Linked DNA regions of Homo sapiens: regions 1, 2, 4, 5, 6 and 7 are each linked to region 3. The links come from fine-mapping of genetic effects on plasma protein levels. A gene starts in region 3. Each other region holds a variant in brackets. All regions are shown on one strand. Distances are between the middles of the regions.

Region 1 (4,288 bases), 830 kb after region 3:
AATTTAGATAATTCAGATAAATGAAAGATTAAAAAATTAAAATCATCTAGGCTTGGCATGGTGGCTCACGCCTGTAATCCCAGCACTTTGGGAGACCAAGGTGAGCAAATTGCTTGAGCTGAGGAGTTTGAGACCAGCCCGGGCAACATGACAAAACCCAGTCTCTACAAAAAAAAGGAAAAATCATCTGGGTGTGGTGGTGCATGCCTGTAGTCCCAGCTGCTCAGAGCCTGAGGCAGGAGGATCACCAGAACCTGGGGACGTTGAGGCTGCAGTGAGCCGTGATCATGGGGCCACTGCACTCTAACCTGGGTAACAGAGTAAGACCTGTCTCAAAAAAAATTAAAATTATCTGATATTCTGCTACTTAGAGATAACCACCATTCATATTCAACCTTCTAAACATTCTCCATGTATACTTTAAAATTGGTGATTACAGTAATTGCTTTATCTTTTATCTCATTTAACACATCATAAATATCCTTCTATTTTAAGTAAATAGGGGGCCATATCATCATTTTAAATAGCTGCATAGTATTCCATCATATGAAGCATCAATTTATTAGTATTTCTTAATGAGTCCAATACTTTTGGACCTTTAGGCTGTTTGCAAGCTCTTGCTGTTATAAACAATATTGTGATAAAACTCCTTGGAAGAAACATCTTCTGGCACTTGCCTAATTATTTCCTTAGAATAATTCTTTGAAGTAGGATTGCTCGTCAAAAGAAATGTACTTTCCAAGGGCTTTTGTTGCATATTGCCAAATTGCTGTCCAGAAACACTGCATTAATTTTCAGTCCTAGCAGTAATGCATAGGAATGTCCTTTTCTTGATTTCCACATCAGTCCAGCGTATTGTCAATCTCTTAAACCTTTGCTAATTCTAACAGTGAAAAATTGCACTTCGTTGTTTCAATTTACATTTCTTTGATTCCTAGTGAGTTTAGACTATTTTTTTAAAGGTGCATTGTTAGAATACCTTCTTGGTGATCCTATTGGAATCCCAAGAATACAGAGGAGACAATTTGTTCTTTCATTCATTCATTCATTTAACATGTTTATTTGCACCTACTATGTGCTAGGCACAGTTTTAGAAGCTGAAGTTACAACAGGGAATAAGGCAGACCCAGTCCCTGTTTCAGAGCCTATATATAGCAGTGTGTGTGTTTGGGGGGACTAGGATCTTAACCCCAGGGACATCAGGCTCCTGAAGTACTAGCGGAGTAATTATAGAAAGTAGCTACTCAGTTCTAGTCAGCATGGGCTCAGCTGTACTACAGCCTTAGGCAAAAAGAAAAAAATCCATAATGTGAATCCTATCTTTATTCAAATTTTGATATTTTGTTCATTATGGATTTTTGCACTAATTATGATTTTAAAATGTTGCCATATAATATGTATTCTGATTGCTGAGTTTTCTTGGTGCACTTTTAAGTTCTGTACCTGAGAAAAGTGCCTCACTCATCTTGCTCTAATCTCGGCCCTCCTAATCTATTTCTGATTTCTAAAATTTCTGTGCACACACAGGTGAGACCCTGCAACCTGAACTCAGGGCTTTCCAGACTCATAAATAAGTGCTGTTCTGACTACACATCCAGAAAGATTTCAAGTCAGTCCAATAACTATTACTTTGAGGAATTGCTGTGTTCCAGGGCCTGTGTCAGGCCCTGGGATATAAAGACAAGCACTCAGTCACCATTTTGAAGGTGAGATTTAGAGGCCTAAGTAAACAATATACCCTGTAATCGTCCATCAGCCATCTCTGTCCTTAGAAGTACATGTGAGTAGTTATGCCATCTTGTTCCCATCCTGGTCTCAATCTTTGGTGGAATGATTACCACGTTCTCAAAGGTCTTGGAAAACTAAATGTTAATAATGTTAACCTAAACATAAAATAACTGAAAGCTATTTAAGTTTCCCCTGTGTGCCAAGCATGACACTAGGCACTTGTAGCAGTTAAGTAAAAGGGAGAATTTAATTATGGAGTTGATTACACAGGTGATGGAAAAGTTGAGAAGCTTAGTAGGAGAGGGTGAGGCCATCCAGACTTTATTCAAAAGTGGGAAGCCACTACCATCTCCAGGGCTAGAGAGGCAAAGGGAAATGATGTAGTTATCAGGGCTTTGGGGCAGAAGTTGAAATATCAAGTGTCCTGTTCCACAGGAGCTGAAAACATCGAGGAGGTTCTGCTCTTGCTAGAGATGTTGCCTGGGGAGGGAGGAAGAAGATGATGGAAAAATAGCCAGAATTTTCCTTCCTCTTGCCTTCCAGTCTCCCAACAGGACTTCCCATTGGCCCTCTCCTGCTGGAAGCCAGCTGATCTTGAAGCCAAGTCAGAGGTTGGCTCTCTTTGATAGA[G/A]AGGAGAGTTAGGGAAGAGGGAGGAACAGATCTGATTGCAAAGAAGTCACAGAATAGCATCCTCCTGAACATAAACCATCTTTAAAAATTCTCATTACCACCCTGAAGTTAAGTACTCTTGATTCCATTATAAAAACATGACACCAGAAACCAAGAGGAGCTAAGAGATAGCTACAGGGACACACAGTAATAGGGGAATTGGATTTGAGGTTAGGCTTGCTTGGGGCCAAGGTCCTATTTTTCCCACACCACAGGCTTCCTCTCTACCCTGAATCATCCCACCATCATCCAGGGCATCTCCAGTGCTCCTGAGGGTCACCCCTCCCTTGCCCTTGCTTTACAGTTGCTTGGCTGCCCCATCTCCAATGACTGGCACTTACTCTCCATCAGCCACCATGTTGCACAACTCCTTTGAATTTTATGTGAATGGTATTCCTGGAGTTATCCAATGGGATGGCCCTGTTGACAACTACCTAAGCCCATGACCATGGTTTGGATCTAGTCATTATATTTGAACACTTGGCCTCTGAAATCTTAGGTTCTAAGAGGTCCTTCCCTGCTGTCCTTCTTCCTCCTTTCTTTCACTTTTGTTGACTTGCCTTTTTGACCTTTCTCTAACCCCATTGGTATTTATTTCCCTACTCTGAGTCTACCAGCCCTTCCTGGATTGAATCCCCAATATGCCCAATCTAGGCTTCATTGTTGTATACCACTCCTGTGACCTTTGTCTGATACACTCTTGGCAGTCCTACGTAACCTTTATCATTCTTTGCTGGAGAAAACCACACAACTGTGGAGATTGAGCTCATTACACACTTATGATTTCCACGCCTGCTTAGTGCCCTTGGATGGTCCCCTTTGCTCAGCTGTAGTTTAAGAACTTATTTTCCCCTGTAGTACTTACTTCTAACCTCATGATCTCCCCGTGGGCCCCAGGTTGCCTTTTTCCGATAAAGGTCCCAATGCCTACATTCATCTGAGCCAGCTGGGCTGCCAGTGGAAATGCGGGGGTGAGAGGACAGGGCAGAGCACAAAGATTCAGCGTGTCTTCACAGAGGTGGTAATGGTGGTGCAGGTGTAACACCAGAGGTACAGGCAGGAAGACTAAGACCAGATGTTGGCCATTTTCTTCTAGTGCATGCAAAATGCTTTATTTTCTTGAGGTTTCCAATTTCCCAAGATTCCTAGGCTTGATGGCTTCATAAGGGTTAACTCACTATCCTATGGCTCTGCCATTAATTACTCCAGTGGCTGCAGACACTGCACGGAGCTGGATCCTGGTTGTTCCAGCTTCAGAGTGGGTTTATTGCCAACCATGCATTATGAAGAACTAATTGTGAGCCCCTTGCACCTGCTGGTTCCCCCTGTGGCTGGGACTCAGGAAGTGGGGGGAGAGTTATTAATGAGCTTGTTGCTCATTATAATAAAACAATGGGGAAGTTGGCAAAGGAGCTGGTGGTCCAGGTGTGGTGTCAGAGAAGGCTGGTTGGCATTTCTGGAAACATGACTTTACAGTCATATCATCTGCCTCCTTCCCTGGCTCATGCTGTGACACCAAGTGATAAAAGAGCTGTCATCCTGAGGGCCACTCAGAGTCCTTGTGAACTCATGATCAGCGGAAGCCACCTGGATGGAGGAATTGCTGAGCCAGCACTCTGTCCTGGCTGAGATGGGCTGGGGCATGGGGAATGCTGGGATTTCAGCCCCAGAGCAGAGGGGACAGACCTGGCTGTGCCCTGGGTTATCTAGGCTTAATAGATACAGCTGAGAGGAGTGGAAGCCAGTGGAAGGCCACCAGAATGACAACCTCTTGCACGTTGAAGAGCTCTGGATAGGTAATGGTTTGGGGCACAGATACAGGGCTGGGACTAGGGTAAGGCAAGCCAGGGTGCAGAATTTAAGGAGGCCTTCACTCTCAGGCTTGTGCAAA
Region 2 (4,288 bases), 520 kb after region 3:
TGAGAGGCAGACAAGAAGTGGGTGTTTCTGGGTGACACTGTGGGACTAACATGTCTCTGACCCAGTTTGAGAGTGCCTGGCCCCTCCTGGAGCTGGAGCTGCAGAAATCGATTTGCAGACTGCCGGTTTCCACTTAATTAGCATGGCCTCCTTCTGGCTGGGAAAACACCATTAAATGGGCTGGGTTGGCCTGGAATCATGCCGGTGGCCTCGGCCCTGGTTCTCTGGGGCTATCTGTCTCTTGGGCTCTGTCCCCTTAGCCAGGCTGGAATTCAGAATGGCCCGAGTTTCTGGTTTGGAGTATGAGGCAAATTCTACCCACGTCCAGGCCCAAGTGTTAGATGATCCTGGGGCCCCGGTTGAGGGAACTGGAAGGAGAAATAGAGGCTTCACTCTTCATACTCTGCCTCCTTGGGCCCATTGGTCAGTGTCCTGGCACACAGACCTCTGACTTGCACAGGGCACCTACCCTGTGCCATGTACACTGCTGCATTCTTTTTTTTTCTTTTTTTTTTTTGAGACGGAGTCTCACTCTGTCGCCCAGGCTGGAGTGCAGTGGCGCGATCTCGGCTCACTGCGAGCTCCGCCTCCCAGGTTCACGCCATTCTCCTGCCTCAGCCTTCCGAGTAGCTGGGACTACAGGTGCCCGCCACCACGGCCGGCTAATTTTTTTGTATTTTTAGTAGAAATGGGGTTTCACCGTGTTAGCCAGGATGGTCTCGATCTCCTGACCTTTGTGATCCGCCTGCCTCGGCCTCCTAAAGCACTGGGATTACAGGCGTGAGCCGCCGCGCCCGGCCTGCTGCATTCTTTAGATGCGTCACCTGGTACACCTTCCACTCACGTCCTGCACAGGTGGGCTCCACTTCACAGATGAGGAGACAGAGGTGCCGAGGGGTTGTCACTTACTGAATGTTCCCATGGCAGTAGGTGGCAGGGCCGGATTCCTATCTCCGGGTCTCCTGCTTCTGGTGTAATCCCAGCGGCCCCTGCAGAGCCTGCCTCTGTTTTGAGGGCACCACTCATCACCTTGGCTTTAAAAAGTTGAAAAGTGGCCAGGGGCGATGCCTCACACCTGTAATTCCAGCACTTTGAGAGGCCGAGTTGGGCGGATCATGAGGTCAGGAGTTCGAGACCAGCCTGGCCAACATGGTGAAACCCTGTCTCTACTAAAAATACAAAAATTAGCCAGACATGGTGGCGTGTGCCAGTAATCCCAGCTACTCAGGAGGCTGGGGCAGGAGAATTGCTTGAACCCTGGAAGGAGAGGTTGCAGTAAGGTGAGATCATGCCCCTGCACTCCAGCCTGGGCGACAGAGTGAGACTCTTGTCTCGGAGAAAAAAAAAATTAAAAATAAATAAATAAATAATAAAAATTCGAGAGGTTTGATTTCTGCTTCTGGTTTCAGAGGAAGGAAAATCACTTAGGCAATGGGCCCCTGGGGAACAGAATAGCTCCTAAATCCCGGGTGTGCTGTCCTCTGTGGGCTGAGTGTCTGTGCAGCGGGAAGAAGGGGCACCTCTGGGTTCTACCCCAGACTTGCTGCATGACCTTCAGCAACTGACTTGATTTCTCTGAGTCTCTTTCCCTCATCTGTAGAATGGGGCACAGTAACAGCCTCCTTTGCAATGTGGATGACACAGAATGCCCCGGAAGGTGCGTTGACACATGGTCAGCGTCCCGTAGCAGCTGCCTGTTATCTCGCCAGCACTCTTGTGGCTAGCCCTTCAGAAACGAACCCAAAGAAGGCCTGCTTGCTTTTTCTCACACCATGGATGTCTGGGGTGTGAGGCAAGGCACATCTTTTTCCCATGGAGGGGATACAGCCC[G/A]CCATGCAGGAGATGGCCTGGGATGGAGGGTGGGTCTCCTGGGCCTGGAGCTCAGCCTCTGTCTGGTGATGTCAGGAATCTGCACTGTGGAGCAGAGGCACCCTGCAGTGTGCAAAGTACTGGTGTTTTCTTTTAAATTGAGGTAAAACTCACAAAACACAAAATTAACCATTTAAAAGTGTACAATTTAGTGGCATTTAAGTACCTTCACAAAGCTGTACAGTCATCACCTCTGCTTAGTTCCAGAACATTTTCATTGTCCCAAAAGGAAACCCTGGACTCATTAGCAGTCACTCCCCAGTTTCCTCTTCCCCCTAGCCCCTGGCAGCCGCTAATCTACTTTCTGTCTCTATGGATTTATCTGTTCTGGATATTTCATATAATATGTGACTTTTCGTGTCTGGCTTCTTTCACTTGGCGTAATGTTTTTCGGGTTCATCCACGCTGTAGCATGTGTCAGTACATTATTCCTTTTACATCTGGATCATGTTACATTGTGTGGATAGACCCCCTGTCCCCCGCCAACCACACACACCCAGGCTGGAGTCACCCTAAGGTCCACCTCTGCAGTGATGGTTAAAGCGATGTCCCCAAAGGGCACTGTGGTCTTGGCTCCTTGATCTCACCAGCCATTCATGTCCAAACATCAGCCTGGTGCTGATGGGGACGAGGTGGGGAGTGATTCTGGGGGATGGGGATAGTTAAAGATCCACCAGGGACAGATGAGCTTCCTGTGTGGTCCAACTCAGGAGTCACCAGGGTCCATGGTTCAGATGCTGGGATCTGGAGCGAGACCATCTGGGCTCAAATCCTAGCTCTGTTGCCTATTGGGTGAACTTGGGCAAACCATTCAATCTCTCTGTGCCTCAGTTTTTCTTTTGGTTAAATAGAATAATAATACACTACCTACTTAAAAGGGTTGTACCAGAGCTAAATGAAGCCTTGCTTTAGCACAGTGCCTGGCACAGAGGAATATTTCCAAAATATGTTAGTTGTCCAAAATGTGTTAGCATTTCCAAAATGTGTTAGCTGTCAGCTCTTGTGATTCTTTGATTCTTTTTTTTCCCCCCGAGATGGAGTCTTGCTCTGTTGCCCAGGCTGGAGTGCCATGGTGTGAACTTGGCTCACTGCAACCTCCGCCTCCTGGGTTCAAGCAATTCTCCTACCTCAGCCTCCCGAGTAGCTGGGATTACAGGCGCCCGCCACCACGCCCAGCTAATTTTTGTATTTTTAGTAGAGACGGGGTTTCATCATGTTGGCCAGGCTGGCCTCAAACTCCCGACCTCAGGTGATCCGCCCATCTTGGCCTCCCTAAGTGCCAGGATTACAGGTGTGAGCCACCACACCTGGCCGTGATTCTTTGATTCTATCAGTTGGTGTTTCCCCCTAAAATTGCAGTCCTGTGAGTGTGCTGAGGCCGTGCCTGGGCACTATGCACCCTCATAGCATGGGTTGCCTTTTCTTACTGCTCCTCCCCTGGGCTGTTTTCCATCTATTTCAGGGCTTTCTTGTTACTGTGCATCACTGTGAGCTCCACAGAGCAAAGGCTCACTCTGGTTTGCTCAGCACAGTGTACACGCCGGGCACAGTCCCTCTGAACAACTGCATGCCCACACCACTCCTGCGTTTCACCTCAGGACCCCATGGCCCACCCCTGTGAGCTAAGCTCATGCCTTTTTACTTTGAGATAATTATAGATTTACATGCAGTTAAAAAAAATACAGAGAGATCCCTTCTGTTCTACACCCAGTTTACCCAAATGGTAAGTTTTTTTTTTTTTTGGAGACAGGGTCTCACTCTGTCACCCAGGCTGGAGTGCAGTGGCGTGATCTCAGCTCACTGCAATCTCTGTCTCCTGGGTTCAAGTGATTCTTCTGCCTCAGCCTCCTGAGTAGCTGGGATTACAGGCACATGCCACCTCGCCTGGCTAGTTTTTGTTTTTAGTACAGACGGGGTTTCACTATGTTGGTCAGGCTGGTCTTGAACTCCTGGCCTCAAGTGATCCTCCCGCCTCAGCCTCCCAAATGGTAACATTTTGCAAAACTAATATATGTTATCACAACCAGTAAATTGACATTGATACGGTTCACCAATTGGATCCAGATTTTGCCAGTTTTATATGCATTCATTTGTGTATGGATGTGTGTGTTTGGCTCTGTGAAATCTTTGATGGCAGGAGCAGATTTGTGTGACCAGCACTGCAGTCAAGAGGCAGAATTATGAAATACTGGTTACATGATAAAATTATAATATTTTGGACATATGGATTAGGTAAAATATATCATTAAAATATCACCTGTTTTTATTTTTTAAATGTTGTTAACAAAACATTTCAAATCACATATGTGGCCTATGTTATATTTCTCTAGGACACTGCCATCAGTCCAAAAAGTTCCCCTGTGTCCCTTCCCAGTCAATCCCCTACGCTCTTCCAGGCAGCTATTGTTCTGATGGTTTT
Region 3 (4,269 bases):
CCCCGTGGGGGAGTCAGGATTCAAATCCAGGCCATCTGGCCCCAGAGTCCATAAAGATAAACATAAGGTTTGTTTATTCCTTTGGCAATTATCTACTATTTGCTGCTCAGTATTCTAGACACTATGGATTCCAAATTCTGGGTTTTTCAAAATCTTTTCAGTAACACTTTTGTAGTGAGAATATTATCGGTGGCGAGTCCGCAACACTCCCAGCCCTTGTCTTCTCAGAGGAAAGAATTCAATTGAGAGACGCAGGCAAGTTTTAAAGCAGAGGCAAAGGTTTATTGAAAGAAGCAAAGTACAACTGAGAGATCAAGTGCCCCGCTCAACCTTTGGCTCGGGGCTTTTATACACTGGCTTGGTTCTGGGGTTTCTTCTCCTCCTTGATTCCTCCCTTCGGTGGGCTGCTGCGCCCTCCCTGCATGCGCAATGGCCTGCCAGCACTTGGGAGGGGCCGCATGCGCAGTGTGTTTACTAAGGTTGTGCGCATGCTCACTTGGGGTGATTTTCCCTTACTGGTCCGTCGCCGCAAGAAAAAGGTCATATACAAGTCAGACTCCAACATTTGCCCTTCTGCTCGACCTTACCAGGGAATTGTGGTTTGCTGGCTCCAGATGATGTCAACTATCTGTTAGGGAACTCCTCTCCCTCTTGGCGCCATTCGTGGCCACTTATCATGTCAGAGGGACAGTTTTATGATCGCCTGTCCATCATTTGATGCACTGCCATTTCTGGGGGCCCTCTCCTGCACAAGAACACAATAAACAGCCTTGTTAAAAGAGTCCCTATTTCACTGCAATAAGACTGAGTGGTGGCCAGAGTGGTAGCAGCTGTTGCTTTTGTGGAATTGGATGGACAGCCTGGTAGGAGAAAGGCCCAGGGGTTCTGACCAGCAGTGGGGTCGTGCTGCTCCCTGAGGCCTCTGCTGGGTCCTGGGCCATCAGCAGGGACCTTAGCCAGCAGTGGGCACCTGCAGGGGTGGAGGCCAGGCCTGGGCCATGTGGCAGCTCTAAGGTCCAAAGATTGCTGCTGTGGGAAATTCCCACCCCTGCAAATGACTCCCAGCCAGGGACATCCTTAAACTGCTGCCAGAGGAAGAGTGACATCTATGTCCCCATAAGATCCTTATGCTCCAGAATGTCCTCCCCCACTCTCCTCCCCTCCTGGGCAGGCTGAGGTCCAGGAAGCAAAGGCCCCTAGGCACACTGGGGATGCACCTGTGAGCCCTTTCCTGCTCCAAAGCCTCCCAAAGGCTGGCTCCTTACCCTGAGGCCTCTGCTCAGCTTGTTGCCTCCCAAGAGAACCCTGCCCTGACCAGAGTTTTGGAATGGCATCCTGCAGACCTGGACTTAAATTCCTGCTGGGTGACTGCAGCCTACATCACTTCACCCTGCCAAACCTCAGTTTCTTCATCTCAAGACAAGACTAAAATATCCACCTGGGGTTGCTGATGCAAGGATGAGAGGAGACGTGCAGCTTAACCAGCACAGCGCCTGCACATAGTAGGTGCTCAATAAATATCAGTTTCTTTCCAATTTCTGCTGGGTGCTGCAAGGATCTCAGGAAATGGAAGACTCAGCCGTGCCTGCAAGGAGCCATCAGACTGGTGGTGTGGGGACTGAGGGGAGGGACGGATGAGGATCCCAACAAACCTCAGCCCCAGTGACAGGAGCAACACGGTACAGAGGAGCAGAGAGGCCTGGACTGTGGGGTTCCCTGTGCTTAACGTGGGACATTCTGATCTTAACCTCAGTGCCTGCCAGTGCTGTTTGTGACCTATTGGGAGTCACCCTGTTAATCCCACCACATTCAGTTGGTTGAGGCCATCATGAAAACCTGCCCAATTTCAAGGGAAGGGGGCAGAAACATTACCTTTTGATGGAAGGAATATCAAAGAATTCGTGGGCATATTTTTAAAGGACCACAATTATCAAAAAGCAGAGTGGTTAATGCTGTGGTGGGGAAAGCGCAAAGGGTTCTGGGACCTCAGAGGGGACCCTTTCTAGAATCCAGAGAAGCATGGGAGTGGTCAGGGAAGGCTTCCTGGGGGTGAGGGCAAAGCAGAACTCACAAATGTAAGCAGGGCTGGGGCAAAACTCTAAAAATTAAACACAGTCTGTACTATAAATTTTGTTTTCCAGAATGAAATTTTACTATCTTTACTTACTGCGAATATATGCCCGGGACCATACCCCCAAGAAAATAAAAATTTTAGAGGCTGGGCATGGTGGCCCAAGTCTATAATCCCAGTATTTTGGAAGGCCAAGCGGGAGGCTTACTTGAGCTCAGGAGTTCGACACCAGCCTGGGCAACATAGCAAGACCTCGTCCCTACTAAAATACAAAAAATTAGCTGGACATGGTGGCTCACACCTGTAGTCCCAGCTACTTAGGGGGCTGTGGTGGGAGGATCACTTGAGCCCAGGAAGTTGAGGTTGCAGCGAGCGATGTTCATGCCACTGGACTCCTGCTTGAGCAACAGAGTAGACTTTGTCTCAAAAAATGAAAAAAGAAAAAAAAATTGTACGTATCAACAAGCAAAAACTTTTTTAACACTTATAATTCTACCCCCACAACCAGAGACAATGCCTCATGACTCCTTGCTAAATATTTTCCAGATTGTTGAACATAGAAGCCTATTTTGAACCCCCCAAAATAGAACCTTACTCTATGGTGCCATCGGAAACGGATGCCTCATGACATCCCTTTCCTTGCCAAGAAATACCTTTATTTCTGCAGCCTCACTTTAAGGGGCATGTCATAATTCATTTAACCAATGCCCTTCTGGTGGATACATGAGGTTGGGTCTCACTTCTCCTGTCCTGTTTCCCACAGCATAGCAGTGGTATCTTGGAGCAGTGATTTACTGGCACACTGACTCAATTATGTATTTAAGGGCAAGTCCCTGAAATTGAATTCCTGGGTCACAGGGCATGCAACTGTTTAAACATTTGCCAATTGCCTTCCAGAAAATTTCACCACCAGCAAGGTTTGAGAAACACTGTTTTCCCATTGGGGGAAACATTTATTTTTTAAATAAACGAGCCAATATATTTTAAAAAAGAGAGTTTGGTTGGTGCCAGATGTAGCTTCACTCTCAACCCTGCCCTCTGCTGGGGGTGAGATCTCAAGGGAGCTATGTGGCTTTTTTGAACCTCAGTTTCCTCATCTGCTAAACCAGGCCTTCCTAGCCGAGCTCTTAAGAGACTGGCTGAGATGAGGCAAGATGAACAGTGATGAATATGGGGTCTTTCTGTGGGGAGGGTGGACAGGGATGATCATAGGAGTCAGGCTTCCTCATCCACTGATCTGGGCAGTGAAAACTGGCTTCTAAGTATGACCTTATGACTTCAGTGATGTCGCAAGCAGGTTCCAGTCCCTGTGCCTCCCCTTCCCGCTCCCAGGAACCCATCCAGCCTCAGGAACTGCCCCCAGCCATCGAGCCTTGGCTACTTAAGGGACCTGGGCCCAATCCACAGCTGGGACAGTCCTGGCCCACTGCACTGGGAATCTAGGATGGGGGCCTTGGCCAGAGCCCTGCCGTCCATACTGCTGGCATTGCTGCTTACGTCCACCCCAGAGGCTCTGGGTGCCAACCCCGGCTTGGTCGCCAGGATCACCGACAAGGGACTGCAGTATGGTAAGAAGCCACATCTGCTGGCTGGACTTGGCAAACCCACGCTCCAGGCTGCTCTGGGTACAGTGGGGACAGGGAGTGGGGACACAGACCGGACCCTCTCCCTGGGGCAGTGCCACCTTCTGGGTCAGGTGGCTCTGGCTCCTATTCTGGCCTTACTGCCCACCAGCTGAGTGCCCTGGGCATGTTATTTGTGGTAGTGAGGTCCTCCACCAGCCAACAGAACACAGCTTTGCGTGCAAGTAGTTGATTTGGGAAATGATTCCAGGAAACACTGTAGGGAATCGGTACTGAGATGAGGAAGGGAGGGCAGCCAGGAGAGAGTGTGCAATTAAACCAGCCACCACCTCTGATGATGGGAACCACTCAGCTGGGAAAATTCTGCGTAAAGTTTGGAAACACATGCCTCTGAACTGGAAGTCAGAATTGTGGTCACCTCTAGAGGCAGGCAGAGACCCTGAAGGGCATGAGGGAGGTCTGCCGGGGTGCTGGAAGTTGCCATATCTTGATCCAGGTGGTGATCACATTCCTGTATAAACATTAAAAATTATTTAGCAATACCTTTAAAATTTGTGCCCGTTAGGTACTTTATGTATATTATTCCTCAATTTTAAAGAATGGGCAGGCCAGGCA
Region 4 (4,288 bases), 500 kb after region 3:
TTGTTTTGTTTTTTACAGACTTTAATGTTTTTCAGAACCTAAATATGCACAGATACATTCTTCTTGTAAAAATCAATCAACGTAGAAGTGTACAAAGTAAAAAGTCCTTTCTGTCCCTCCCTTCCTCCCTCTCTCCTTCCTCCCCTCCTTTGCTTCTTTTTGTCCATCCATCACTACTGTTGTTAGTTTGATGTTTCTTTTCCAGGTATTTTTTTCATTTGCATATGCACTTGTGGACTTAAGAGAAATATAGAGCCAGGTTTCTTTTTTAAAAAGTTTTTACATAAGTGATGGTATCCTGGATACATTATTCTGCAATTTTCTTTTTTTTTTTCCCATCCAACGGTATATCTTGGAGACGTTTTCATGCCAGAACATGTACAGTACAGATCTGTGCCATTATTTTTATCTGCTGTGTAGTATTCCATAGTATGGATTACCAGAATTTTCTAACTAGCTCCTTATTGATGCAGATTTTTCCAGTAGCTTCGCTTTTGCCACAGTGAATGTTTTATTTCCATGTGCAAATGTTTATCGAGGACAGATGTGATGAAATGAAAGAGATGGATCTGAAGGTATTAAATTTGAATGAGAAAAGTGCTAGACCCCATGGGCTGGTCCCCCTGTCTCTATGGGGCAGCCAAGTGAGGGGAAGGGGCCAGAATACTGTGCTCTGTGGCAGGCTCGTGGGTTGGTTTTAGGGTCCACAGTTGCCTGGGTTTGGATGAGGGGTGTGAGGCTGCCATCAGTCAGCCCTTGACCTCACTGGGCTATGCTCAGCTTCCTGGCAGCACTACAGAGCCTGCTGCTTTCAGCAGGCTGGGAACGGCTGCTTCTTGCTGGTGGAGCTGGTGTTTGGGAGGCTGCCGGGGTGTTAGCTCACAGTGGCGTGGGAGCGTGGGGTGGCAGCTCCCCCACTCCCCTGAGCTCACAGCAGCCTCTGAGTCAACCTCCCCCACCTGCCTGGGGAATGTGAGTTGTTTCCAGAGAAAGGCAGGCTAGGAACTCACTGAGTTTCATCCTCTGGTCCCATATTGCCTTTAGACTAGTGTCCTTGCCCTTGGACCTGCCTGAGCCCCATGCTCACTGCTCTCACTGCCATCACCCTCTGCCCCAGGCGACGCCAGCTCCACCAAGATCCTCCCATATTCCCTGCGTTATCTTACCTCCACACCTTTGTATATGCAATTCCCTCTGTCTGGGACACTCTTCCTGTGACTAACTCCTGTAACCCTCAGCTTTGAGTCCAGCGTGATCTCTGGGGAGCCATCTGTGAGCCTTTTCCCGGCCCTGGTTAAAGTAGCAACTCAATACGTAGCTGATGTTTACTGAGAGACAGTGTAGTGTCATGGCTAGGAGCACAGACCCTGCAGTTTGTCCTCCAGGATTCAAATCCTAGCTCTACCGTTTACTAGCTGTGCATCCTTGGGAAAGTTACTTTACTTCTCAGTGCCTCCATCTCCCCATCGGTAAAAATGAGGATGATGATGTACCCGCTTCATAACGTTGTTGGGGGGTTAAATTAAGTTGATAAATGTTGAAGTGGTATGGTCAGAGCTACGTAAGTGGTATAAATTGTTGTTATTCTACACTATTCTACATTTACGTAATCTATTATTACAGCATATTCTGATTGTCATCATTGTTATTATTTATCAGGTGCTTTGTACCAGGCAGCTTGCCTTACATATGTTATCTCGGTTAATCTTCACAGCAACTCTCTGAGGTTAGAGAGTCAAACCCCATTTTTAAAAAATAGCTTGGGGTTCAGTTTACATATTATAAAATTTGCCCACTTTAAGTGTACTATTCAATGATTTTCAGTAAATTTACAGAATTGTGCATCCATCAGCCACAATCCAGTTGTAAAACATTGCCATCGCTGAGTGGTGTGGCTAACACTTGTTATCCCAGCACTTTGGGAGGCCAAGGTAGAGGATCGCTTAAGCCCAGGAGTTCTAGACCAGCCTGGAGAGCCTGTCTGTACTGAAAAAAAAAAAAAAAAAAAAAAAAAAAAGCCAGCCGTGGTGGCACTTGCCTGTGGTCCCAGCTACTTGGAAGGCTTAGGCAGGAGGATCGCTTGAATCCGGGAGGTTAAATCTGCAG[T/C]GAGCCATGATTGAACCACTGCACTCTAGCCTGGGTGACAGAGCAAGACCCCATCTCAAAAACAAACAGAAAGCCTTTTCATCATCCCAAAAAGAAGCCTCATGCCCATTTGCAGTGACTCCTGGTTCCCAGACCCAGGCAACTATAATCTACTTTCTGTCTGTATAGATTTGCCTTTTCTGGACATATTATTTACATGGAATCATACAGTATATGATCTTTGTGATTGGCTTCTTTCATTCAGAATACTGCTTTCAAGGTTCATCCTTGGTGTGACATCATATATCAGGGCTTCATTCCTTTTCATTGCCCTGTAGTATTCCATTGTATAGATATTCCGCATTTTGTTTATCCATTCACCAGTAGGTGAACGTTTGGATTATTTCTATTTTGGGGTAGGATGAAGAATGCTGGAAGGCAAATTTGGGTACAAGTCTTTGTGTGGATATATGTTTTCATTTCTCTTGGGTCATTACCTAGGAATAGAATTGTTGGGTCATATGGTAAATTATGTTTAACTTTTTAAGAAACTGCTGTACTGTCTTGGAAAATGGCTTCACTGTGTGAATTCTCATCCCCCATTTTACAGATGAGAAATTTGAAGCTCAGAGAGACTAAGTCACCTGCCAAGGTCTCACAGGTTTTAAGTGTCAGACTCAATCCCAGGATTCAAACCCAGATCAGTTTCTCCGAAGCCCATGTATTTAACCACCAGGCAGTCCTGTACTTCCTGCTTTTGTTTTCACTAGAAAACTAGAGAACCCTCAGTTGCTGTACTGATCTGTGTTTGTTTTGGCCTTAGGCATCCTGGTGTTTCTGCTGGCATCTTGGGCCCTTTGATTTGGGGCCCCCAAGATAAACTCTTTAGCCCCAGATATAACTTCTTTCTAGGGCCACAATAGCCCAGCCTCCCTTGAAACCATTGAATGTATGTTAAGTTGTTAGAGACTTCTGTTTTTCTCTCAGAATGTGTAGGGTTTTCTTTATGGAAATTCTCATTCAAAAAATGTTTGAGTGATTCTTCTGTACTCTAAATTTAACTCTTATTAAATTTAATGATTTTTCTCACTGTAAAAGTTTTCAAACTCTTTTTTAAGCAGTGGAAACTTTTCTTTAAATGAGATATTATGCAGAAACCCAATATGTAAAACAAAGGAAGGAGCTGTTCTGACTGGGGTCAGGTGGGTGGGGTGCTCAGTCATCCCTGCCACCTGCAACCCCCTCCCCCACCCCCAGGCACAGTGCTGGACACCTGGGCCTTGCCACCACCATCTTAAACCAGCAGCTCATCTACAGGAACTAGCTCAGACTTTCACTTTTGGTCCTTTTAAAAAGGGAAGTTTCTTTTCTTCTAATTATTAAAAAAAAAAAAACCCTGTTATTGTTACAGAAACTTTTAGAAGTACAGAAAAAAAGAAGCATTAAGAAGAAGATAAAATCACCCATATTCCCCCTGAACAGCAACAACCATTGATAATATTTTGGTATTGTTGTGTCAGGCAGCGTCCTGGGAGGAAACAAATGGTGATTTTATATGGGGTGATTTGTGGAAAGTTTGATAAAGGGGCAGTTTGTAAAGGGTTTAGGGAAGTGGTCCTCAAACTTTTTGGTCTCAGAGGCCCTTTATATTCTTAAAACCTGAGAACTCCTAAAAGCTTTGGTTTAGCTGGGTTCTATCTACCCATATTTACTGTATTCGAAATTTAAACGGAGGCATTAAATATTTATTCATTCATTAAGTCAGAATGATAAACACATTATCTGTTGGCTATCTGCTTCTGCGTAGCAGATGAACTCAAAATTTAGCAGCTTAAAACAATAAACATATACTGCCTCACACAATTTCTGTGGCTCAGGGATCCAGAGCAGCTCAGCTGGGTGGTTCTCGTTCAGGATATCTCATAAGGTTGCAGTCACTTCAGGATTTACCTGGGGCTGGAGAATCCACTTCCAAGATGGCTCACTGGCATGGCTCTTGGCAGGAGGCCTCAGTTCCCTGCCATGTGGCCCTCTCTATAGGACAGCTCGAGTGTTCTCTCAGCATGGCAGGTGGCTTTTTTCAGAGTGAGTGATCCAAGAGATAGAGGAATCCGCAATGCCTTTATGACCTTGTGTTGGAAATCATGTACCATCACTTCTACCATCTTCTATTCATGAGAAATGACTCACTAGGTCCAGCCCA
Region 5 (4,288 bases), 1.0 Mb after region 3:
ATCAGATTTTATCCTCACAAAACTCTTGTGGAGGAGGTAGTATGGAATTGTCACCTTCATACTACAAATGAGAAAATAGGGAAATGGCATGGTTTTCCCAGTCACACTAGTATATAGTGGCAGCAAAGATGGAATGTGAGTTCAAAGGATCAACAAACTCATAGGTTCTTTCTGTCCTAGACTGACTTGTGAATAATAGCACAATAGAGGAAGACAGTTGGGTCAAATTAGTTATATGTTGTGTGTAGAAAAACAGCCTTCCAATAATGGCACTTCCCATGTTAATTATTTTGCATGGTGTGTAAAAAGAGCTTGACACCTATGTAGGAGGTTCAAAGCAGCTCCCAAACTATATTGTCTTCATGCAGCCCAGCTACCGACTGAGTATGGCTAGATTGTCAGTACACTGCTAACTTCTGTGTTCTCTCCTGTAATAGCAGACTGGACTCTGCAGGCCTGATCAAGTAGGAATGGGTGGGTTGAAAGTCGTGATCATTATAAATCAATTATCTGCAGTTTGCTCAAGTAAGGGTCCTTGTCATTATGCATTATAGCTTAATTTTCCCAACTAAATTGACCTTTCAGTGGCCCATGCCCATTATTGTTTATTTTAGAAAACTTCTACCATTGCCCATTCTTTAGAGCAGAGCTGCCCAATAGAACTTTATAGAATGATGGATATATTCTGTATCTGCACTGTCTCCTATAGTAGCCACTAGACATGCACAGCTATTGAGTGATTGAAATGTGGCTGGTGCAACTAAAGAACTGATTTGTTAATTTATTGGGAATTTTAATTAATTTAAATATATATAGCCATGTGTGGCTGGTATCGACTACATGGACAGTGCAGCTCTAGGAATGCTGTGATTCCCATGTCTCATTCTCACAGCTGCTGGGTGGCACTGGCAGTTGACAGCCCTCAAGAGAGTCCTCTGGAAATTTCTGTCAGCCAAAGAAAGCCCCTTGGCCCAGGGTCACACTTCTTTCTGGGACAGCCCACATTCAGTGACTGGTCTGGGCAGGATATAATGGTCTGGCCCCCTCATCCCAATTTGGAACAGCTCTGAAGGGATATTCTAACTTCAGAACTCCTTATGGGACTGGCAAGGCTTCTATTGCAACTGTATCCCAGTTCTGTTTCTCCCCTGCCTTGTGTTCTTCCTGCACCCCTCACAGATGTTGACCCCAAGAGCATGCCCCAGTAACTGGCTGCATGTGAATGTCTGTCTCAGAGTTGGCTTCTTGGGAGCCTGATTTATGACACTGTCCCTGGCCTCCCACCCAATTCTGCACATCTCAGATATAAACTGTTAAAACAAGAAAGCAAATGCATTGTTAATTTTTTCATAACTTGCATTTTACATCAGCCTGGGCCCATATCACACCGGGAAAAGGAAATAAAGTCATCTGAATAAAGGATACATTTCTGCAAGAAGTTCTCTGTCCAAGGAGTCAGTAGAAGGAAACACTATGAATGACACTGTATTCTAAATTTTGTCACTGTCACTTTCTCTTCCCCCCACAAGGTCATTTTCTTAATTCAACAAACACTGACTGTGCATGCACCTCCTATATTCTAGACCAACATTAGGGTTCTAGGTGCACAGAGATGACAAATGCAGTATGGTTCTTGTTCTCAGTGGCTCATTGTGTGGGTGCAGAAGGAGATGTTCAGGAGGCATTAGATAATCCAGTGCCAAAAGTGCCACATTTAAGGTACCAGGGTACACTGAAGATATGCAGGAGGAGGAGGGACTCTTCTGTGGGGATCAGGAAACTGTGACTCTCAGACTAGTTTTGTATGGGTCATGAGTTAAAAATGTTTTCCAAATTTTATATTGTTGAAAAATACTCAAAAGTAGAATCATATTTCATGATACATGGAAATCACATGAAATTCAAATTTCAGTGTCTATACAGAAAATCTTATTGGACCACAGCCATGCTCATTAGTTTACATATCATCTATGGCTGCTTTCACACACCACCACCAGGGTTGAGTAGTTGCAGCAGAAAGTGTATACCACCTGTAAGGCAGAAAGTAAGATATTTACTCTCTGGCCCTCTACAGGAAGTTTGCCGACTCTTGGGTTAGTGCAATCAAGGAGGTCTATCTGTAAAGAGTTGCCTCTGAACTGGGTTTTAAAGCATGAAAGGGAATTTTCCAGGCAGAAAAGGACCAGATGAAGGTAACTCTGGTAGAAGAAACAGCATGTGCGGAGGCATACAGGCAAGAGGCAGGAGGCAAGAAAGGAATAGTATGCATAAATAATAAGTATTTCAGGCTGGGAGAGGTGGCTTACACCGGTAATCTCAGAGATTTGGGAGGCCAAGATAGGAAGGTCACTTGAAGCTAGGAGTTAGAGACCAGACTGGGCAACAAAGTGAGACCCCATCGATAAAATAAATAAATAAATAAATTAGCTGTTTGGGAGGCTGAAGTTAGAGGATCACTTGAGCCCAGGAGTTCAAGGTTGTAGTAAGCTGTGAATGCACCACTACATTCCAGCTTGGGCAGCAGAGGGAAACCCTATCTCTTACAAAAAAAAAAAAAAAATGTTGGTGCATTTGGGACATTTTGTTTGGAGTGAGGTAGGAAGCAAGTATGAAAAACTGGATTTTCATGCTAAGGAATTTATTCTTCATTTCTTAAACAGTGAGGAG[T/A]CATTGAAGTGTTTTAAGCAGAGGAGTAGTTTGGCCAGTTTGGGGTTTCAAGGAGATCATTCTGGTGGCCCTTACGGAGGAAGCTTTGGAGGAGGCGAGACCAACGCAGGGAGTATTTCAACAATGAAGACACCAAGAGCTTGACGTGGAGTAGCAGCGGTGGGGATTCCAGTTCCTATGTGAGCTCAAGAACCCAGAGTGTAGGAAGTTCATTTTGACAGACTGGTGGGATGAAGCCAGGACATGGGGCGGGAAAAGGTTAGGAAAGGAAAGAGTGAATCAGAGGCGGGGGTTCTGTGGGTGGACAGGCAGCTGGACAGGCAGCAGCAGAAGCGATGTAGGACGCAGCTTGGGGGACAGCTGAAGGGCTTTGGGGTTACAGCAGCGGAAGTGACTTGAGCAGAGGAGGGACTCTGGACATCATGGACAATGGGGCACTGGGAAGTGAGGAGCTGGCGGCAGGGTGGGCACAGGATGATGACGATGATAACAGTAATGATGATAATAGCAATAATAACAGTGGAAGGTCAAAGGCAGCTTCCTCTGAGATGGCCAGATGAGGGAGGGGGCTAGTGTCCAGCTCACTTTCATAAGGTCGGGCTGTAAGTGGTGAAAAGCAAGCTTTGTGTGGTAGAAACAGAGGCCAGCTGCTGCCAGAGGGGAAAGGAAGGTGGAGGCTGAGGTGGGATATTTTCCAAACCCAAGAACCAAAGTAAATAGGAAATGGAATCTTTAATGCTATTTGAGCTCAAACAAAAGATCACCACAGCTACTTCAGTTGAGTTCCAGTGATCCCTTTCACTTGGCCAGGAATTAGCGAGAGGCCTCCCCAGCTGTGCATCTCTCCTCTAAGCCTTCACCTGAGAATGAGCTGAGGTTTGAATGAGGCCTTTATCCTGAGAGTTCAGGGGGCTGTTCTGGCTCCCTGATCAAATTCAAACCTCTGTTTTGGGAGACAGACATGGGAAAAATATTTACCCCTTTCATGTTGACACATGGATATACAGGGCAATTCTGTCAGAATCTACACGAAGCCAGAGCTGCATTTTAAGCCAGTATCAGGGGCCACTGTTTTTGGGGTTGCTTAGGTGACCGTGTTTGGGGTCAGTTGCCTGATATAGAGGGAGTGCTAAACAGGGGCTTGTACAGAAGATGACTTGGGGAGTTTGAGTCCACTTACCCTTCTCTACACTGTGAGAAGCAATAACATTCTTGTTAACCAGTAGTATATAACATTATCTCACTTAATCCTTCCAGCAACAGCTCTCTTAAGTTAAAACTAATATTAGCCTTATTGTACGGATGGAGAAACTGATACCAAGAGGAGGCTAGAATAGTTGTGCAAGTCAGAGTCAGTGGGAAAACCAGATTCAAGCTGAGCAACAAAACAGAAGAGACTCTGATCTTGTATATCACTGGAGGATTGAGGAATTGGAGGAGCATCTTCCAGGGAACGTCTCTGTTGACTGTGGACCAGAATGCTCTTCATCTGTCCTCCTGGCTATCTCCTTCTCAACTGTCATGTGTCCTCCCCAGGGTGGCCTTCTCTGATCACTCAAGCCAAAGGATATCTCAGCATCCTGTACGGTTTTTTCAAGGTACTGGATATAATTGTATTTAT
Region 6 (4,288 bases), 640 kb after region 3:
CACTACTAGTGCAGAGATCGAAAGCAGGCCATTAACATTGGTACAATAATAGTAATTAGACTATAGGCCTTATTTAAATCTCATCAGTTTTCTTACTAAGGTTCTTTTTTAGTTCTAGGATCCTACATTGCATTTAGTTGTTGTTTCTCCCTAATCTTTTCTAGGTTGTGCGAATTCCTCAATATGTCTTCATCTTTCATGAACTTGACACTTTAAAAGACTAATGGGATTTACTTTGTAGAATGTTCCTCAGTTTGGGTTTATGTCATGTTTTCTCATGATTAGAAGGAGCTTATGTATTTTTGGCAAGAATACTACAGAAATGATATTGTATCCTTAGTGCATCATTTCAAGGGTTCATAATGTTGATATGTCTTGTCACTGGTAATAGCAACTTTGGTCACTTGGTTAAGGTTCCAGCTTTTGCCTGTGAAACTACTGTCTTTCCCTTTTTAGTTGATATGTATCTTGGGGGACATATTTTCACACTGCAAATAGTCTACTTTTCTTCCAACTCTCACCTACTAAGTTTAGTATCCCCCTCAGTGGATCTTGTCTGTAGCAGTGATGATTTTCTTTTCTCCTCTTTCCCTCTATCTTTATTAAATGTAATTTTCTGTAAGGAAGAACTGTGCTTTCTTCCTCACTTATTTCTTAGATTATTTGCGTGTATCAATATGGATTCATAGATACTTATTTTTTTCTATGTGTTAAAGCCCAATACTGTCATTATTTATTGTGTTGCTCAGATTGTTTCATCTTTGAACATTAGAAGCTCCTTCATTTTGGCTCCTGTTTTCTTTCTAAAGCTTTCATTTTTTTGACCGCTTCCTTACTTTCTAGTACTACAAGATGTTTCAGGCTTGTCTTATATTTTTTCCTACACAAGCCCTGGTTCCTTTTATTGGAGAATGATGTTTAGAAATCATGATCTGGGGCCGGGCGTGGTGGCTCACACCTGTAATCCCAGCACTTTGGGCGGCCAAAGTGGGTGGATCACCTGAGGTCAGGAGTTTGAGACCAGCCTGGCCAACATGGCAAAACCTGGTCTCTACTAAAAATACAAAAAATTAGCCGGGCATGGTGTTGCATACTTGTAATCCCATCTACTAGGGAGGCTGAGGCAGGAGAATTGCTTAAACCCAGAAGTCGGAGGTTGCAGTGAGCCGAGATCACGCCATTGCACTCCAGCCTGGGCAACAGAGCGAGACTCTGTCTCAAAAAAAAAAAAAAAAAAAAGAAATCATGATCCGGATGCTAGAGTGCTCATTGCTACGAGATGTCATTGCTGAGTCTCAGTGAGCAGACTTAGGAAATATATGTATGAATATTAAGCCATACATTATAAAAACATCTAGCTATCTGTATCTGTCTATCCATCTATATTTTAAACACCATGAGTTTATGCAAATGCTTCTGATTCCAATCTAATACCATAGGGCTCTTTTGAGCCTTTCTTTATTTATAACTTCTCTGCAACAATGAGAAGCTTAGTCCTTATCATCTACAGTATATTTGTGGATTCATTAAAATAGTTTCAGAATTGCTAACTTGTAACCTTGTTTGGATATTTACTAACTAGATTACAGCATTTATGTACAGTTCTTTCTGTCTTTAGCCTTACAACATACAGTCAAGATATATTTTTCCATCATTCCTTAGGTAAGTTCTTTTCTTCTCCACCCCCTGCAGTGTGGTTATGTTATTCATTTGTAGTATAGAAAGGGTCATCTGTTAGTGTTTATATTTCCTTTAGGTTTCCCTCCACATCCTGGTTGGTTTTATTTGTCTTCTGGGTGTTTAAAAAGTATGTGAAACATGCATGGCTGTGATTCTCAGAGTCAGAGCTACACAAAAAGATCTATTGAGAGCATTGACACGCCCTCTTTATCCCTGTTCCCCTCCCTCCATTTCCCCTTCTTTCTACACCTTTCCCACCCATTCCCTGTAGACAACCATTTCTTAGTATCTATATTATCCTTCCTTTATTTCTTTTGAACACATGAGCAGGTACAC[G/A]CAGTAACTTTTAAAATCTTTTTTCTATTGTAGAAGTAATACATGTTCATTGTAAAACTATTAGATGTTAGAAAAACATGTAACTGATAACCACTGTTATCCGTATTGGATTTTAAGTGCATATAATCAAATAAATACATAGATATTAAATAAGTAGGTAACTCAGATAAATACACTTAATCAAATTTTTTTTTTTTTTTTTTGAGACAGAATCTCTCTCTGTCACCCAGGCTGGAGTGCAGTGGCAGGATCTTGGCTCACTGCAACCTCCACCTCCCAGGTTCAAGCGATTCTCCTGCCTCAGCCTCCTGAGTAGTCACGATTACAGGCATGTGCCACCACACCCACCTACGTTTTTATATTTTTGGTAGAGACGGGGTTTCACCATGTTGGCCAGGCTGGTCTTGACGTCAAGTGATCTGCCTACCTCAGCCTCCCAAAGTGCTGGGATTACCGGCATGAGCCGCCGTGCCTGTTCAATCAAATTTTATATATGTGTACTAATCTAATGGTGTATAGTCATATATATAAAATCCAGTTGTTTTATTTAATATGGCTGAAATGTGTTGTGTGGTTGATATTTATGTTGAGCCATCTCTATATGTGCTTAAAAATTCTTTGTTCTACAGAGTTAGCACTGTTTTGAGTGACCTGTGGATAATTTTTTGTTCCCTGAGGCATCTGTAGTACATGGTGATTTTCCAGGACTGGGGTGTCAGAATGCTGGAATTGCGCCTTAGTTCTTCTGTTGATCAGCTTTGATGTGAACTTAAGTAAATCACCTAACATTACCAAGCCTCAGATCCTCCATCTGTAAAATAATTCCCAAAGTTCTGCTGGGACAAGAACTGTACTTTTTCCTTTCTTAGTGATTTTAACACAATACGGGAGCATCTTGGGGGAGATTGCTCTGCAAAAGTGGTATCATATGTATACTTAGATGTGATTTTGTTTGTAGTACCTTGCAGAAGCCGGCTGGACAGCTGAAGGAAGAGTGGTAGGAGTGACCCAGCCTCGAAGAGTGGCTGCTGTTACAGTGAGTTTCTTTTTGTGTTGGAAAGATTCTATCTGTGTTGTCTACATTTGTGATTTGTTTACATTTCCTAAAGGCTTTAAATGAATAGAAGTTGCTCCTTAAGAGTTTAGGTCTTCAGTTTTTATGTTTTTTTTATTTTTATTTTTTTCCTCAGACAGAGTCTCACTCTGTTGCCCAGGCTGGGGTGCAATGGAGCTATCTCAACTCACTGCAACCTCCGCCTCCTGGGTTCAAGCAATTCTCCTGCCTCAGCCTCCCGAGTAGCTGGGATTACAGGCATGTGCCACTACGCCTGGCTAATTTTTTTATATTTTTAGTAGAGACGGGGTTTCACCATGTTGGCCAGGCTGTTCTCAAACTCCTGATCTTGTGATCTGCCTGCCTCAGCCTCCCAAAATGCTGGGATTACAGGCATGAGCCACTGTGCCTGGCCAGGTCTTCTGTTTTAAAAGAATTATGATTTGAATATTTTTGTTAAATTGATCCTGCACATTATGAACGTTTTAAACAATAAAGTGCTGAGGAAATAAAAAAACAATATATTTTTAAAACCCCAAATTTCACCATCCAACATAAACAATGTGAACATTTGTGAACATCATTCCAAGCTTCTCCTAAAGATGAAGATGAATGGTTGACTGGCTGGATAGAAATAATTTTATAAAAATGAGATCATATTTAATATTTATTTTTTATTGAATTTAACAAAATAGGAAACTTTAGTGAAATAGGAGTAGCGACTGTACTTTGGATAAATGTTCACCGCAAGATAATTTATTAAAGCTTGAAAAGTAAGAAAAAAGAGTACAAAAAAATTCAAGATGTTACCTATATTTCAAATTACGCCTTATAGTTTCCTGTTATGAAAGAAGAGGAAATTAGCACATGTATTCTTCTTTCCACCTTCCCTTTCTCCATTTGTTGTAGATACAGTCCTGTCATTTTCATTTCAAGATTTATAATATACATGTTCTTAATCATAATTCTCACAGGTGTTTAACCTTAATTCTAGCTTGAATGGATTCATTACTCATCATTAGTTATTTTCTATGGTTTTGCTAACCTTGAATTGCTTGTTTTGCTTTTATTTCTTGTATTGGCTGAATTTTATCATTCAGCTTTTTTTTTTTTTTAATATGCTTGAGAATGTTCAGTTGTGGTTTTTGTTGATATAAAATTCTTGATTCACACTGTCCCTGCAAACTGCAGACTTTGCTCACTGCCTTTTGGCGTTGA
Region 7 (4,288 bases), 510 kb after region 3:
CTTGAATGATACGTTAGGACTTTTGTGTCACCAGTGACAAAAACTCAAGCTAACAAGGTTAACAAAACAGTGTTCACGTAGTGGAGAGTTCAAAGATAGCACAGCTTCAGGCACTTGTGGATGCATGAGACTACCAAGAAATGTCTCTGAGAAGACGACTATCAGCAGCTTGAAATATATATCCTAAATCCTTTTGGCAACCTCAGTAAGAATAATTTATTTTCCCAGAAGTGTCCCAGGCTCAACAAGTCCCAGAATGGAACCTCATTGGCTATGAGGTCGATTCCTGAGTCAATTGTAATGGCTAGATAAGGGAAGCAATGCTATGATTGGTCTGGTTGGAGCCATATGCCCACTCCTGGAGTCTGCTTCTCCCAAACACATGGACTGACACTTGGTATTATGTTGTACCTACCCACTCCCCCAAAAATATTGGGATGATATTTCCAGAAGGAGGGAGAATGGATGCTTGTCAGGCCATAATTAAATATATTCACCTCAAATGAAATATTCACCGGCAGTTTCTACTCCATATCATTCATAATTGCAATAAGGATTTGCCTTCTAGACCAGAATTGTGCAATAGAATTTTTTTCTGATGATGGAAATGTGCTGTCCAATACAATAGCTGCTAAATTTTTTATTGTATTTAGTTAGAAATAATGTAGTCAACTGTGGCTAAGCTAGAGGCTGCTGACTTAGAAACACAGTCATAGGCCATTATCCAAATCCCTGATAAAAATGTTGAATAGGGCCCAGCGTGGTGCTCACGCCTGTTAATCGCAGCACTTTGGGAGGCCGAGGTGGGCAGATCACCTGAGGTCAGGAGTTCGAGACCAGCCTGGCCAACATGGTGAAACCCTGTCTCTACTAAAAAATACAAAAAATAACCAGGTGTGGTGGTGGGCACCTGTAGTCCCAGGTACTCGGGAGGCTGAGGCAAAAGAATTGCTTGAACACGGGAGGTGGAGGTTGCAGTGAGCCGAGATCATGCCACTGCACTCCAGCCTGGGCAATAGAACAAGACTCCATCTCAAAAAAAAAAAAAAAATTGTTGAATAGGTCATGGGCAGAGATGCTGCCTGGGGCCACACCCCCGGAGACCTTTTCCAGATTAATGTATCAAAGTCAACTACTGGGAATAGTTGTGCAACTGAAATGAACTTAACTACATTGTTATTTGCAGTTGGTATGTGGGAACAGTAGCAGGAGTCTCGACAATTAAAAAACAATTAAAAAAAAAAAAAGCTGGCTGGGCATAGTGGCTCACGCCTGTAATCCCAGCACTTTGGGAGGCCAAGGTGGGTGGATCACCAGAGGTCAGGAGTTCGAGACCAGCCTGGCCAACATGGTGAAACCTAGTCTCTACTAAAAATACAAAAATTAGCTGGGCATGGTGGTGCATGCCTGTAATCCCAGCTACTCAGGAGGCTGAGGCAGGAGAATTGCTTGAATACAGGAGGTGGAGGTTGCAGTGAGTTGAGATTGCACCATTGCACTCCAGCCTGGGTGACAGAGTGAGACTCCATCTTAAAAAAAAAAAAACCATCTTTCCTACAAAACTTAGAAGACGATTTCTCTCTGAGGGTTAAATTACAACAAAATGTGATGGATCAGAGTAGCAATTCATGCACAGACATTTATGGAACATAGTCTGGACATCATCAGGCTGGCATTGGTTGTTCAGTGGTGAACAAAACAAAATGGGCCAGACCACCTTGGAGCTCAGAGTCTAGCAAAGTCATTGTGAAGAGAGCATAGTATTAACATGCTTAACAATGGATGGTGTTATTATAAAGAAGGCCTTGCTGGGCATGGTGGCTCATACCTGTAATCCCAGCACTTTGGGAGGCCAAGACAGGAGGATCACTTGAGACCAAGAGTTTGAAACCAGTCTGGGCAACATATTGAGACTGTATCTCTACCAAAAACAAAAAC[A/G]AAAACAAAAACAAAAGCCAGGCATGGTGGTGTGGGCCTGTAGTCCTAGCTGCTTGGGAGGCTGAGGCCGGAGAATTGCTTAAGCCCATGTGGGCAAGGCTGCAGTAAGTCACAATTGTGCCACTGCACTCCAGCCTGGGTGACAGAGCAAGGCCCTGTATCTCGCGGGGACGGCGGGGGGGGAAGGCCTTGTCAAGAACAGATGCCAGAAAAAGGGGGCTAGGAGATCATTTATGAACAATTCTATTTAAATATCGTTCAAGGGAGAGGACACTGTGAGCAACAACTTTGGTGATTACCATCCCATTGCTAAGGACAATCTGATTATGGAAAAAGGGGACTTCAACCCATCTTGGTGATCTTGGCGTAATCATTAAACATGATGATTATGTACAACCTTCTGATTATAATTTGGCGTCCCAGCCAGGTCTGCCTACAAGCACAGAATGAGTTGACCGTGCTTAACTGAATTTCAGACATGCAAGGCAATTATTCTCCTGTGATCCTGGCATTGTGTTTTTATGCAGCAGCCTCATAAACTTGGATAGTATGAGACTGCTCTTGGGAGAAGAAACTGCTGTTGGTAGGCTGGTCAACCATGGTCGATCACCAAGGTGATACCATCCTAGGGATCTTGGGGATATTTAACCAATTGGAACTCCCTTGGAACCTCCCCCAAATCAAACCACAATGACACTCAACCAGCATTTCCCCAGGGTGCTAATAAGGAGGTGTATGAGAGGCTTGTCAGGTGCTCAATGGAGTCTAGACATTTTCTATCTTTGACATTTCTCAGTGTAGTGAACCCATTGAGAAGATAGATGAGGCATTGCTAGCATGATTGATTCTTGCTTGGCTTCTAGGGACCACTGTTTCCTTTTTTTTTTTTTTTTTTTTTGCGGGGGGTGGGGGTAGCATGGGGGGATAAAGTCTTGCTCTGTTGCCCAGGCTGGAGTGCAGTGGCATGATCTCGGCTCACTGCAACCTCCGCCTCCCAGGTTCAAGTGATTTTCCTGTCTCCGTCTCCTGAGTAGCTGGGATTACAGGTGCCAACCACCACGCCCAGCTAATTTTTGTAGTTTTAGTAGAGACGGTTTCACCATGTTGGCCAGGCTGGTCTCAAACTCCTGACCTCAGGTGATCCATTCCCCTCGGTCTCCCAAAGTGCTGGAATTACAGGCATGACCCATTGCGCCCGGCCCCACTGTTTCCTTTCTAATCGAGTGAGAAAATGGTCAGTATTTCTGTCAACAAAATTCATGAGGCTCTTTGTACGCACAGACTTCAGGCCTTTCTCTCAACAATCGCCAAAGCTGGAGCATCACATGGAGGAACACTGGGGTTTGAAAAACAGGAATGTTCCAGAATCTTCTCAGAGTATTACATTTTCCAACATGTCCATCCCATATTTGTACCAACAAACAGAGCTGGTCCCACTGCCCTCATCCTTTGTCTACCATGTTAGGCTGAGGAAGTTGCATGCAGAGCAGAGGTGAAGACTAAGAGAAGAAGATACAAGAAACCTGCTGAGTAGGGGAGAGGGAAATGGTACCTCTGCCAGTTATGCTGGAAAAGCTAAATGAAACCCAAATCTTGATGGAGGTGTTAGGGTTTTCAGTCTTTCAAGAGAAGCTCAGGACACAGGCTTTTTGGCTTAAGGACCCCAAATTTCCTGGGCACCACAAAAGTAGTAACGGCAGTCCTCCAGGTGAATCAGTGTCAAGAGCTAGACTGTAATCACTTGCCTTTTGTTGCATTACAAGCCACTCTTGAAACACTTAGTGGATTGAAACAACAACTTCTTATTTCTCAATGATTCTTTGGCTTGACTGGGCACTCTTTCTGCTGGTCTTCCCTGGGCAGTTCTTCTGCTGGTTCTGCCTGGGCTCACTCATGAGGCTACAGGTAGCTGCTGGGTCAGCCAGTGTCTGGGGCTCAGCTGGGATGACCTGGCCTCTCTCTGCCTGTGGTCCTTTATCCAGCATGATGGTCTCAGGGTTCCAAGCAAGTAAGCCCCAATGCACAAGTATTTATCCAGCCTTTGCCTGCATCGCGCTTGCTCATGTCTCATTGGCTAAAACGGATCACGTGGCCAAGCTCAGAGTCAGTGTGGGAAGAGTCTATACAAGCGCTTGGGTACTGAAAGGCATGATTCATTGGGGGCCATTGTTATAATCTACCACACATTCTAGACTTTGCTTTGCTTTAGATCCGAATTCTAGCAACTCGATGTGATAACCCTGGGCACATCATGTTGCTCGAACACTGTAATTGGCTATTGATGTCCCTGGAATGTCTGAGATGTATGGGGTGGACCAAACACTGCCTCTCTCTGGGAACCCCGGACTTT

Alleles and levels. Alleles are on the strand shown, and positions count from the first base shown. The strength of an association depends on the size of the effect and on how common the allele is.
As copies of G replace A in region 1, the plasma level of the protein whose gene starts at base 3,481 in region 3 goes up (moderate association).
With allele A in place of G in region 2, the plasma level of the protein whose gene starts at base 3,481 in region 3 is lower (moderate association).
With allele C in place of T in region 4, the plasma level of the protein whose gene starts at base 3,481 in region 3 is lower (moderate association).
As copies of A replace T in region 5, the plasma level of the protein whose gene starts at base 3,481 in region 3 goes down (moderate association).
With allele A in place of G in region 6, the plasma level of the protein whose gene starts at base 3,481 in region 3 is lower (moderate association).
In carriers of allele G in region 7, the plasma level of the protein whose gene starts at base 3,481 in region 3 tends to be lower than with A alone (moderate association).

What was found. PIP is the chance, under the fine-mapping model, that this variant and not a neighbour inherited with it causes the effect. Protein levels are from antibody-based Olink assays in UK Biobank. Linkage for the fine-mapping came from a reference panel and not from the study's own genotypes, which makes the PIPs less certain.
Region 1: its variant is fine-mapped to the plasma level of the LBP protein (UK Biobank, PIP above 0.99).
Region 2: its variant is fine-mapped to the plasma level of the LBP protein (UK Biobank, PIP above 0.99).
Region 4: its variant is fine-mapped to the plasma level of the LBP protein (UK Biobank, PIP above 0.99).
Region 5: its variant is fine-mapped to the plasma level of the LBP protein (UK Biobank, PIP above 0.99).
Region 6: its variant is fine-mapped to the plasma level of the LBP protein (UK Biobank, PIP above 0.99).
Region 7: its variant is fine-mapped to the plasma level of the LBP protein (UK Biobank, PIP above 0.99).

The regions. Positions count from the first base shown.
Region 1 is chr20:39,172,654-39,176,941 of GRCh38, forward strand. All of the region lies in intron 2 of LOC107985448 (a long non-coding RNA gene), which reads left to right. Among named protein-coding and RNA genes, the nearest start is that of LINC01734, 50 kb to the right of the region's middle. The variant G/A (reference allele first, on the strand shown) is at 2,359.
Region 2 is chr20:38,864,791-38,869,078 of GRCh38, forward strand. All of the region lies in intron 2 of PPP1R16B (protein phosphatase 1 regulatory subunit 16B), which reads left to right. Among named protein-coding and RNA genes, the nearest start is that of FAM83D, 59 kb to the right of the region's middle. RefSeq lists enhancers at 1,781-1,880, 1,901-1,970. The variant G/A (reference allele first, on the strand shown) is at 1,831.
Region 3 is chr20:38,343,002-38,347,270 of GRCh38, forward strand. It overlaps LBP (lipopolysaccharide binding protein), which reads left to right and starts at 3,481. Exons shown (of 15, transcript NM_004139.5): 1 at 3,481-3,639. The coding sequence starts at 3,516. RefSeq lists an enhancer at 757-1,534.
Region 4 is chr20:38,839,365-38,843,652 of GRCh38, forward strand. The region is part of intron 2 of PPP1R16B (protein phosphatase 1 regulatory subunit 16B); the gene reads left to right. Among named protein-coding and RNA genes, the nearest start is that of PPP1R16B, 36 kb to the left of the region's middle. RefSeq lists an enhancer at 3,399-3,508. The variant T/C (reference allele first, on the strand shown) is at 2,107.
Region 5 is chr20:39,392,625-39,396,912 of GRCh38, forward strand. No RefSeq gene overlaps it. Among named protein-coding and RNA genes, the nearest start is that of LINC01734, 170 kb to the left of the region's middle. The variant T/A (reference allele first, on the strand shown) is at 2,668.
Region 6 is chr20:38,980,725-38,985,012 of GRCh38, forward strand. It overlaps DHX35 (DEAH-box helicase 35), which reads left to right. Exons shown (of 22, transcript NM_021931.4): 4 at 2,975-3,052. Among named protein-coding and RNA genes, the nearest start is that of DHX35, 21 kb to the left of the region's middle. The variant G/A (reference allele first, on the strand shown) is at 2,017.
Region 7 is chr20:38,849,933-38,854,220 of GRCh38, forward strand. The region is part of intron 2 of PPP1R16B (protein phosphatase 1 regulatory subunit 16B); the gene reads left to right. Among named protein-coding and RNA genes, the nearest start is that of PPP1R16B, 46 kb to the left of the region's middle. The variant A/G (reference allele first, on the strand shown) is at 1,939.